Linked DNA regions of Homo sapiens. The protein of the gene in region 3 binds, or shares a complex with, the protein of the main gene of each other region. Each region holds a gene or a part of one and is shown on either strand. Other genes may lie near its edges.

Region 1 (2,772 bases), 8.4 Mb from region 3:
CCATCGGGCCTATAGTTCCCCACTCTACAGCAACCAGCAGTACGCTTGTGTCAAAGATCTCTGTAAGTGCCCTTTATGGAACATGAGGGAATGGGCAAGCCTAGAGATGGTTTCATGCCATCTCTAGCTTTGGGAGCCAAATTCTGAAACAGAAACTTTCTGTTTCCCATAATTCTCCCTCAACCTCACATTTTTATATCCATTTGGATGCAGAGGCAATATCCCCATTTTACAGCAGAGGGAGATACGATTTAGTTGCAACTACATACAGTTAGCAAGAGGTAGAGCCAAGACTGGAATCTTCAGTTGCTAGCTTCAGAATCTGTGCTCTTTGTGTGCAAAATCATTTCTAAGCAAGAACAAGGATTCTAGATTGTCCTCATCCTTACTACAGAGTCATATCAGACTCGGGGCAAGACCCAAAGGCTGCAGGCACCCTGGGCAGGTTCATAATTTGGCAACCCAGGCCGGGCGCGGTGGCTCACGTTTGTAATCCCAGCACTTTGGGAGGCCGAGGCGGGTGGATCACGAGGTCAGGAGATCGAGACCACGGTGAAACCCCGTCTCTACTAAAAACACACAAAAATTAGCCGGGCGTGGTGGCAGGCGCCTGTAGTCCCAGCTACTCGGAGAGGCTGAGGCAGGAGAATGGCATGAACCCGGGAGGCGGAGCTTGCAGTGAGCCGAGATTGTGCCACTGTACTCCAGCCTGGGTGACAGAGCGAGACTCCGTCTCAAAAAAAAAAAAAAAAAAAAAAATAATAATAATAATAATAATAATAATTTGGCAACCCTTAAAAACATATTCATTGACAAATTTGCTCAACATTTATTTGGAGGAGAGGCTGAACTCTGTGAAGAGCATGGGTGAAAAAGAAGAACCTATTGGTGGCAGCACCTCAGCTTACACATGCCATTTAGCAGAACAAAAGCCAGCAGTTAAGGGCCCATTCTCCTTAGAAGGAGAATAGTGATTCTGCGCATGTCTCAGCTCCCAAGCAAGCAAAGTTGTGTTTCAAACATCATATAATGCTCTGCCTGGAAGGAGTTCTAATAAATACTTTCCTCCCTCACTTTACATCACCAGTGATGTTTTTAAAGTCCTTTATAGATTGGTGTCCTGGGTATTGCCTAGCTGACCCTTCCCTAATCTTCCCCGCGGCGCCCCCACCGCCACCCAACACACACATGGGTATCCATCTACTCAATCCCACCTCTCCCTTCCTTTCCTCCAAGCCTTTCTCTGCCTTCCCAATAATGTCTTCTTTCTCCTCCCATTCGATTAGCTGCTGCCAATCGCAATGATCCTGTGTTTGAAACCCTGCGCACTGGGGTGATCATGGCAAACAAGGAACGGAAGAAGGGACAGGCAGATAAGAAAAATGTGAGCACTGTACCTCCCCACGAGGTCCCTCCCAGAGATCCCATGGAGCAGGTCATTTTCCCATTTGGAAAGCTGACAGAAGTAATGGATTGTCTTCCCCTAAAATTGCACAAAACTCGGCCAGGCATGGTGGCTCACGCCTGTAATCCCAGCACTTTGGGAGGCCGAGGTGGGCAGATTACCTGAGGTCAGGAGTTCGAAACCTGCCTGGCCAACGTGGTGAAACCCTGTCTCTACTAAAAATACAAAAATAAAAATAAAAAATCCGGGTGTGGTGGTGCTCGCTTGTAATCCCAGCTACTTGGGAGGCTGAGGCAGGAGAATCGCTTGAACCCGGGAGGCAGAGGTTGCAGTAAGCCACTGCACTCCAGCCTGGGGGAGAAAGTGAGACCCTGTCAAGAAAAAAAAAAAAGGAAGGAAGGAAGGAAAGGAAGGAAGGAAGGGAAAAGAAAAGATAAATGTACATATCTGATCAAAAAAATCAACTGCAAAAAACAACTAGAAATCTGGCCTCAAACTTGTTGATATGGAGGTTGGACACAGATAAGGGATTTCTATGGAGTGAATTAATGACTTGTAAGGCACTAGCAATGTGATATGGCTGCTTCCAGAAGGGCTAACATACTCTTGGGTTATATTCTTTTAAGGGAATTATAAAAATTGTGCTGCTCTTTTTTTTTTTTTTTTTTTTTTTGAGATAGAGTTTCGCTCTTGTTGCCCAGGCTGGAGTGCAATGGCACGATCTCGGCTCACCGCAAACTCTGCCTCCCGGGTCCAAGCGATTATCCTGCCTCAGCCTCCCGAGTAGCTGGGATTACAGGCATGTGCCACCATGCCTGGCTAATTTTGTATTTTTAGTAGAGAGGAGATTTCTCCATGTTGGTCAGGCTGGTCTCGAACTCCCGACCTCAGGTGATCCGCCCACCTCGGCCTCCCAAAGTGCTGGGATTACAAGCATAAGCCACCGCGCCTGACCATGCTGCTCACTTTTTACTTACACACTGGAGTATTTTTAAAGGCTGACAGCATAGTCAAGGACCTGGAATCTGGTAGTGAATTCCCTGTTATTTAGCTACATTCAAGCAGAATGTGGGTGACCCACCTGATAGGATGTTTTAGGGAAAGTCCCTGCATGGCCGGGCACAGTGGGTCACGCCTGTAATCCCAGCACTTTGGGAGGCCGAGGCTGGTGGATCACGAGGTCAGGAGATTGAGATCATCCTGGCTAACACGGTGAAACCCCGTCTCTACTAAAAATACAAAAAATTAGCCGGGCGTGGTGGCAGGCGCCTGTAGTCCCAGCTACTCAGGAGGCTGTGGCAGGAGAATGGCGTGAACCTGGAGGCGGAGCTGGCACTGAGCCAAGATTGCGCCACTGCACTCCAGCC
Region 2 (2,901 bases), on a different chromosome or scaffold from region 3:
GTACAGACCCGTGCCTGCCTGCGCCCAGACAGCTGCACACAGGGTGAGTGGGCAGACACACAGACACACACTGACACACACAGACACACACAACACAGATACACACACACGACACACACAAGACACAGACGCACAGAGACACTGACACACACGCATGATGACACACAAAATGACACACAGTGACACAGACACACACTGATACACATGCATGATGACACACAAAATGACACACAGTGACACACACAGACACACACTGACACACACGTACAATGACACAGACACAGAGACACACACTGACACACACGTACAATGACAGACACAGAGACACACACTGACACATATGCATGACACACAATGACACACACAGACACTGACACACACACAGATACACACATACAATGACACACACAAGACAGACACAGAGACACACACTTGACACACACACAATGACACACACAGACACTGACACACACACTGTGGTGCATGGTGTGGTCCCTAACGAGCCATGACAAGAGCTCCCATGCTGAGGCCGCATGCTGGGTGTCCCTTGTGTTTGCAGAGTACAGCATCTCGGCAGCCGCCATCGCCATCTTCAGCCTTGGCTTCATCATCCTGGGCAGCCTCTGTGTCCTCCTGTCCCTCGGGAAGAAGAGGGACTATCTGCTGCGACCCGCGTCCATGTTCTATGCCTTTGCAGGTAGACTGGGGGATCTGCCTGAGCGCCGGGGCCGGGGGACCATGTCGCGGGGGATTCTCCGCTCCACCCTCATGCCCACCGCGAGATTTGGGTGAGGGGCATTTCCCAGGCTCCATCCCCATCCAGGGGCAAACCTGGCCAGGCCATCAGCGACTCCAGGTGGGTTGGAGGGAGACAGAGCTTGGCGGTTTGTCCATTCCTCTCCACGACTCAACCCTCAAGGCCCCAAAGAAACTGCCCAGAGAATGATTAACAAAAGAAGGAAAGAAACGTGGTCACCTTTCTTTCTTTTTCTTGGGGGATGAGGAAGAGGGTCTCGCTCTGTCATCCAGGCTGGAGTGCAGTGGCACAATCACAGCTCACTGCAGCCTCGAACTCCTGGGTTCAAGGGTTCCTCCCGCCCCAGCCTCCTAGTAGCTGGGACTACAGACGTGCACCACCACACCTGGCTAATTTTTCATTGTATTTTAATTTTTTGTAGAGACGGAGGGCTCATCACTATGTTGCCAGGCTGGTCTCAAACTCCTGGCCTCAAGCGATCCTCCTGCCTCAGCCTCCCAAAGTGCTGGGATTACAGGTGTGAGCCACCACACCTGGCCACATGGTTGCCCTTCTGAGGGATGCAGGAATAGGGTGGTGGGTGGACAAATGGATCCTTCTGCAGGTTCCCATCTAGAACCTGCCTTGAGGCAGCTTTTCCCCCAAGGCAAGGTCACCGCCTCCTCCATGCACACAGGCTGGGATGGGGCTGGTGGCTACGGCAGACGCCCCTCGGTCCCTGAGCATGCCTGGCTCTGCCCCCAGGTCTCTGCATCCTCGTCTCGGTGGAGGTCATGCGGCAGTCGGTGAAGCGCATGATTGACAGTGAGGACACCGTCTGGATCGAGTACTATTACTCCTGGTCCTTTGCCTGCGCCTGTGCCGCCTTCATCCTCCTCTTTCTCGGCGGTCTCGCCCTCCTGCTGTTCTCCCTGCCTCGAATGCCCCGGAACCCATGGGAGTCCTGCATGGATGCTGAGCCCGAGCACTAACCCTCCTGCGGCCCTAGCGACCCTCAGGCTTCTTCCCCAGGAAGCGGGGTCTTGGCCTGGAACCTTCCAGAGAGGAGGCGGGAGCAATTTTAGCCCCACCCTGCTCCCATCTGCCCCCCTGCAACAGTCGCAGGCTGCTTCCTCTCTCTGAGTTCCTCTGGGCTGCCGCAGGCTCCCCTGGGAATAGAGCAAGACGTGAGTCCTAACCTGGCCACAGTTGGGGGAGGCAGAGCCAGCAGGTGGACAGGTGTTTGCAGGGGCCCAACTTCCCCTGGAGCTCAGAGGTGTCCCCACTGTACCAGCCTCTGATAAGCTGCCTCCAGTTGTCCTTTATGAACATTGCAGGGACAACCTGTGTTTGCCAGCTGGGTGTTCCGTGTAAATAGCCAGCCTGTCTCTTTCTCGGTGATAAAACACACCCTCTCTGGTGAGCCCAGCGTCCCCTCCTTGGCTTCCAGGAGCCCTGGGAAGCATTTTTAACTGGGTAGAATCTGACTGTGGCTTGAAATAAAAAGCTCTCAGAAAACTCATGCTTTCCTGGAGCCTTGCATAGAAATCGCTCGGATTCCCAGTCACATCAGGGGCTCCCCTGACGCCGAATGAGAAGGAAAGGCCGGTCACCCGGGTATGTTGAGGTCTTTTGTGGGGACAAGAGGGCAACGCACGTGGCTTAGAGGCTCTGAATTCCAACTCGTATCTCTAGGCCCTGAGATTGTTTTCGGGAGAAACTAGAAACCCTCTGATGAAGCAAGGGTGTTAAAAATAGGAGGGGTTATTTCTAGAGCCTGGCATGCAACGCACCTGGTGCCAACACAGCGCTAAAGCAGCCAGCCAGTGTCTGATTTCTGATGTTGGATTTTTCTTGTGAAGAACATCAGGAAGCAGGGCTTAGCAGTTAGACACTTAGGGCCACATGGAGAGCCATGATTTGCACTCTTCTGCCTTCCAAAACCCCGCAGTACTTGCCCAGGCTTCCAAAGTGGAGTTCAGACATGATCGGCAGATGGGATCCTTGCCTTGCACCCCGGAGAACCCACTGGAGTTCACGCTTCTAGGGCAGGGTTTGGCAAACTATGGCCCATAGGCCACACCTGGCCTGCCCCCTCTTGCTGTATGGCCCACAAGCAAAAGGTAGTTTTTACAGTTTTAAATTGTTAAAAAAATAAATAAAAT
Region 3 (3,657 bases):
AGTAGAAACCATGGCCCTGGTGCCTGTCTCATGCCTGGTTGGCGTCAGGGCAGATCCAGAGGTTCTGGGCTCCCTCCCCTCTCTGTTCTGCCCTCCAACAATGACTGCCTAGAACACTGTCCCCAGAGCCATAAGCCATGATCCCCCCAGCCCAGGTCCCTTCCTTGACTCACCTGCTTTTGCTTCTGCTTGGCTTTTTGGAAAAGGAAATACAAGATTAAAGTTGGTGAAGGGGGAAAGGTCCCTGGGGGCATGGTATCCCCGTCCCCAGGGGAGATACTGGCTTCTCCCCACCCCTTCCAATCCCTCCACAAACCCTTCCCACACAGTTCACTTGGGCAGGATCCCCTCTTTCCCTGTGTCTTAGCTACCCACCTACCCAAAATGGGTGGGTTGGGGGGAGGCTACCTAGAGATGGCGGAGGGGAGCGTCGGTTGCCAATGTCACTCAGGCTGGAAGGGTTCCCAGATCTCCTGAGAAGAAAGGGAGGTGAAAGAGAGAGAGAGAAGAATGTGTCTCTGTGTATGTATGTTCTATGCATTATTTAATAATTGTACACAATTCCATATGCTTTATCTAGTGAGACAGGTGTACATGCAATATGTGTGTGTGTTTGTAGATTTGTTTAGTGTTGAGTGTGTAGAGCTGGGCATACGTGTATGTGTATTTCAGGGGGATATGCATGTGTATGGCATGCATGGTGACGTGTCCTGTGGGTACAGTGCAAGTGTTTGGGGTGTGTTTACTGACTCATGGCCCAACTCTCACCTGGCCTTCTGCTCCTGTTTGAGCCGGATGCTCTCCAGGCGCTGGGGGCTGGGGATGAAGGCGATGTCCCCGCCCTCTTTCACTAGCCGCCCGATCCACCAGTCATTGCTGTACTTCTGGGGGCAGGTGGAGCAGGAAGGGGTGGTGAGAGAAGCGCCCCGCCCCAGTCCTGGCTCTTCAATGTGAAGGAGCCAGCGAGGCAGTCACTGAGCTGGTCTGAGGAATGCAATGCAAGGGGCGGTGGGCAGAAGGGGCCAGGGGAAAGGACAGCCAAGTTCGGGCCACCCAGGATTTCTGAGTGAGGCATTGCAGCTGTCACAGGGGACCTCGGAGGCAGCTAATCTAACTGCTCACTTGACAGACATGGAGACTGATGCCCAAGCCAGGTCTCAGAAGGATGGAGACCCTGGGGATGAGATCTTAGATATGAGGGGTGGACAGGTGTGTGTTAAGGAGAAGAGCTGATTAGCTTGGGGAATTAGACTGAGGATTCAAGTCAGAAGCATTAGGATCTGGAGCAAGAGCAAGAAAATGAAGTTAGAGGCTTCTGGAAGTAGGGGGGTCGATCACCTCTTTAATGTGCAGAAAATCTTTGGCCTCAAAGTTGACTCCAGAGCCCTGGACTGGGCACTCCTCATCCAGTACGCCACAGTAGCTGACATTGGTCCTCACCGCAAATGCCACAGGTTTGTGCTGGAGAATTTGCCCATTAGTGCAAGTGAGAGAAGGCTCGAAGCACCCCTTCCAGCTTCAGTGCCCCAACAGCAGAAGGCCGTGGCCTCTGCCCATCACACACACCCTCTCACACTCAAGGACATCCTGCCCAAGGACCCCTTGGGACTTAGGACCGAGTGCAGGTTTCCACCTAGCTTGGCCTCCTGTCTTGCCCCATGCCCAGAAAGTATACCTTGGCCCTTTCGAGCTGCTGCTGAGCCTGGCTCTCTACTTCACGCCGGGCACTCTCCCGGTCCTCCTCCAGGGAGACGTCTGAGTCCAGAGATGGGCGGCTGGTGTAGGAGTCGGCTGAACCCTGGGTTGGGAAAGAGGCTGTGACTCCCAGGCTCCGGCATGAAGGATGCCATGGAGGCACCCTCCTCACCTTACAGTGTTGCCTCTATTGCCCCCAGTTTCTCCATCTCCAAGGGGATAGCTGGGTCCCTATGGCCCCTCCTATCCCCTGAGAAGGGCCCCAGTGCCTCTGAGGCTACAGGAAAGCTGGCCCAATCCATAGGTGCAAAGATCTGGGCCCCTCCTCCCCCAAGCCTATTAATACTGCAGCTTTGAATAGAGCCTTCACTTCTCTCTTTCCTCCCTTTTCTCCCCTCTAACATGTCCTCTGAGCCGAGGGAAGGGAGGTGTGCTGAAGATGATGTATTAGAGATGATTCTGGATCCAGGAGACCCAGCCCTCTTGTTCATAGCAGCCTGCAAAGCAGCCTGGACATCATCCCTTTAAGATGCCTGTCAGGAGTCCAGCCAGCCGCAACAGTCAAGAGATGCTGGTTGGCACAGCACCAGTCCTGAATGTGGGGATCCAGCCATCTGCCCCCTAAGATTCCACTTTCCCTACTCCAACAAGGCTCTGAAGGCTCCCAAATGGTGAGCCCTTACCCTTCCAGGGTGAAGAGGAGGACACAAAGCTGCCAGCTCCTAGAAGTTACCTCCCCTTTGCTCTCCCCACCCCCTACTTTTCTTCCTTCCACACCTGCTGGGGCAACTAGCCAGGTGTGGGCAGCAAACAAGACACAGACCAAGAACACAAAGCTGTCTCCCTGGGTGCAGGTGAGGCTGGGCCACACCTACCACTTGGCCTACATCTCCCTAGTCCTTTCCCAGGCCCAGGGGACATCAGCCCTAGAAGAAGGCTATGCTAGTGCCAGGCAACCTAGCTACGGAGCAGGACCCCGGGGATGTGGGGAGGGGGTAACATGAGCAAGGAGAGTCTCTGAGTCCTGCCCATAGGAAAGGTCTTGGGCAATGAGGGTGCATTTGACGGTCACAGAGTTCAGCCTCAAGACCATGAGGGAGAGGCACAAATGAGTAAGGGACGCTGGACTTTGAGACAAGAGCCCAGAGGTTACAATGTCTGGGTTTCCTCCTCTGTCAGGGAAAGGGAGTCTTTCGTTTCCTGCCTCAGTTTTCCCTCTCTGTGGGGAGAAGCCTCAAGTGATACTTCCCACAATTCTGAGATGCCAGTGGCAGAGAGAAGGGATAAGCCTAGATAAGGGGTTCATGCAGGAGTGTGTGTGTGTATAGGGGAAGGGGCTTTAGAATGTCCTCAGGTAGAGGAACATTCTCTCAAGCTCACTGGGCATGACCACCTACGGAAGGCAGCAGAGGCCAGACTCTCAGAGAAGAAGGCAAAATCACATACCTGCTGTCAACCATGCCCTCTACCCCTACCCTGCCGTGGGCAAGAGGGCTGTTCAGCTAGGGGTCAGCCCAGGCTCTCGAGCCTTAGGCTAAAGACAGTGTCTATAGTAGACCAAAGGCCTGAAGATAGCACAAGGGGGAAAGATCTTTCATTTTACAGAAGAGTAGTCCGCCGACTGTTCCTCATCTCTCCTGAGAACAAAATGAGGCTGGATGGCAGCAGGATAAGTGGGGGATGAACCCCAGAAATAATCTTTGCACAGGGTGAGGGACCTCCTTCCCAGGGGTCTTAGGACACAAGAGAAACCTCTGTGGGATGTTGGTGTCTGAAGCAACCAGACAGGGGCCAACAGACTGGGAGGCAGGAGGCAAGGCAGATGACCACTCGCTTTGGTACAGATACATTGGGTACCTCCCAGAGGCCCAGAACTGTGCTAAAAGAGGAGTCTGACCTTTTCTGCCTGTGCTCCAGGCTCTCAGCCCAATTTAGTAATCTTTATTTTTATTATTTTATTTA

What was found.
Region 1: CACNB3 (region 3) and STAC3 share a complex: the UniProt entries of both Homo sapiens proteins name them as parts of the calcium channel complex.
Region 2: CACNB3 (region 3) and CACNG1 share a complex: the UniProt entries of both Homo sapiens proteins name them as parts of the calcium channel complex.

The regions. Positions count from the first base shown.
Region 1 is NC_000012.12:57,245,416-57,248,187, reverse strand, and holds part of STAC3 (SH3 and cysteine-rich domain-containing protein 3), read left to right. Parts: coding exon 1-62; intron 63-1,286; coding exon 1,287-1,384; intron 1,385-2,772. UniProt on the Homo sapiens protein: Required for normal excitation-contraction coupling in skeletal muscle and for normal muscle contraction in response to membrane depolarization. Required for normal Ca(2+) release from the sarcplasmic reticulum, which ultimately leads to muscle contraction.
Region 2 is NC_000017.11:67,054,544-67,057,444, forward strand, and holds the end of CACNG1 (voltage-dependent calcium channel gamma-1 subunit), read left to right. Parts: intron 1-559; coding exon 560-697; intron 698-1,501; coding exon 1,502-1,728; 3' UTR 1,729-2,254; downstream 2,255-2,901. UniProt on the Homo sapiens protein: Regulatory subunit of the voltage-gated calcium channel that gives rise to L-type calcium currents in skeletal muscle. Regulates channel inactivation kinetics.
Region 3 is NC_000012.12:48,821,485-48,825,141, reverse strand, and holds part of CACNB3 (voltage-dependent L-type calcium channel subunit beta-3), read right to left. Parts: intron 1,799-3,657; coding exon 1,676-1,798; intron 1,462-1,675; coding exon 1,339-1,461; intron 885-1,338; coding exon 769-884; intron 474-768; coding exon 409-473; intron 194-408; coding exon 174-193; intron 1-173. UniProt on the Homo sapiens protein: Regulatory subunit of the voltage-gated calcium channel that gives rise to L-type calcium currents. Increases CACNA1B peak calcium current and shifts the voltage dependencies of channel activation and inactivation.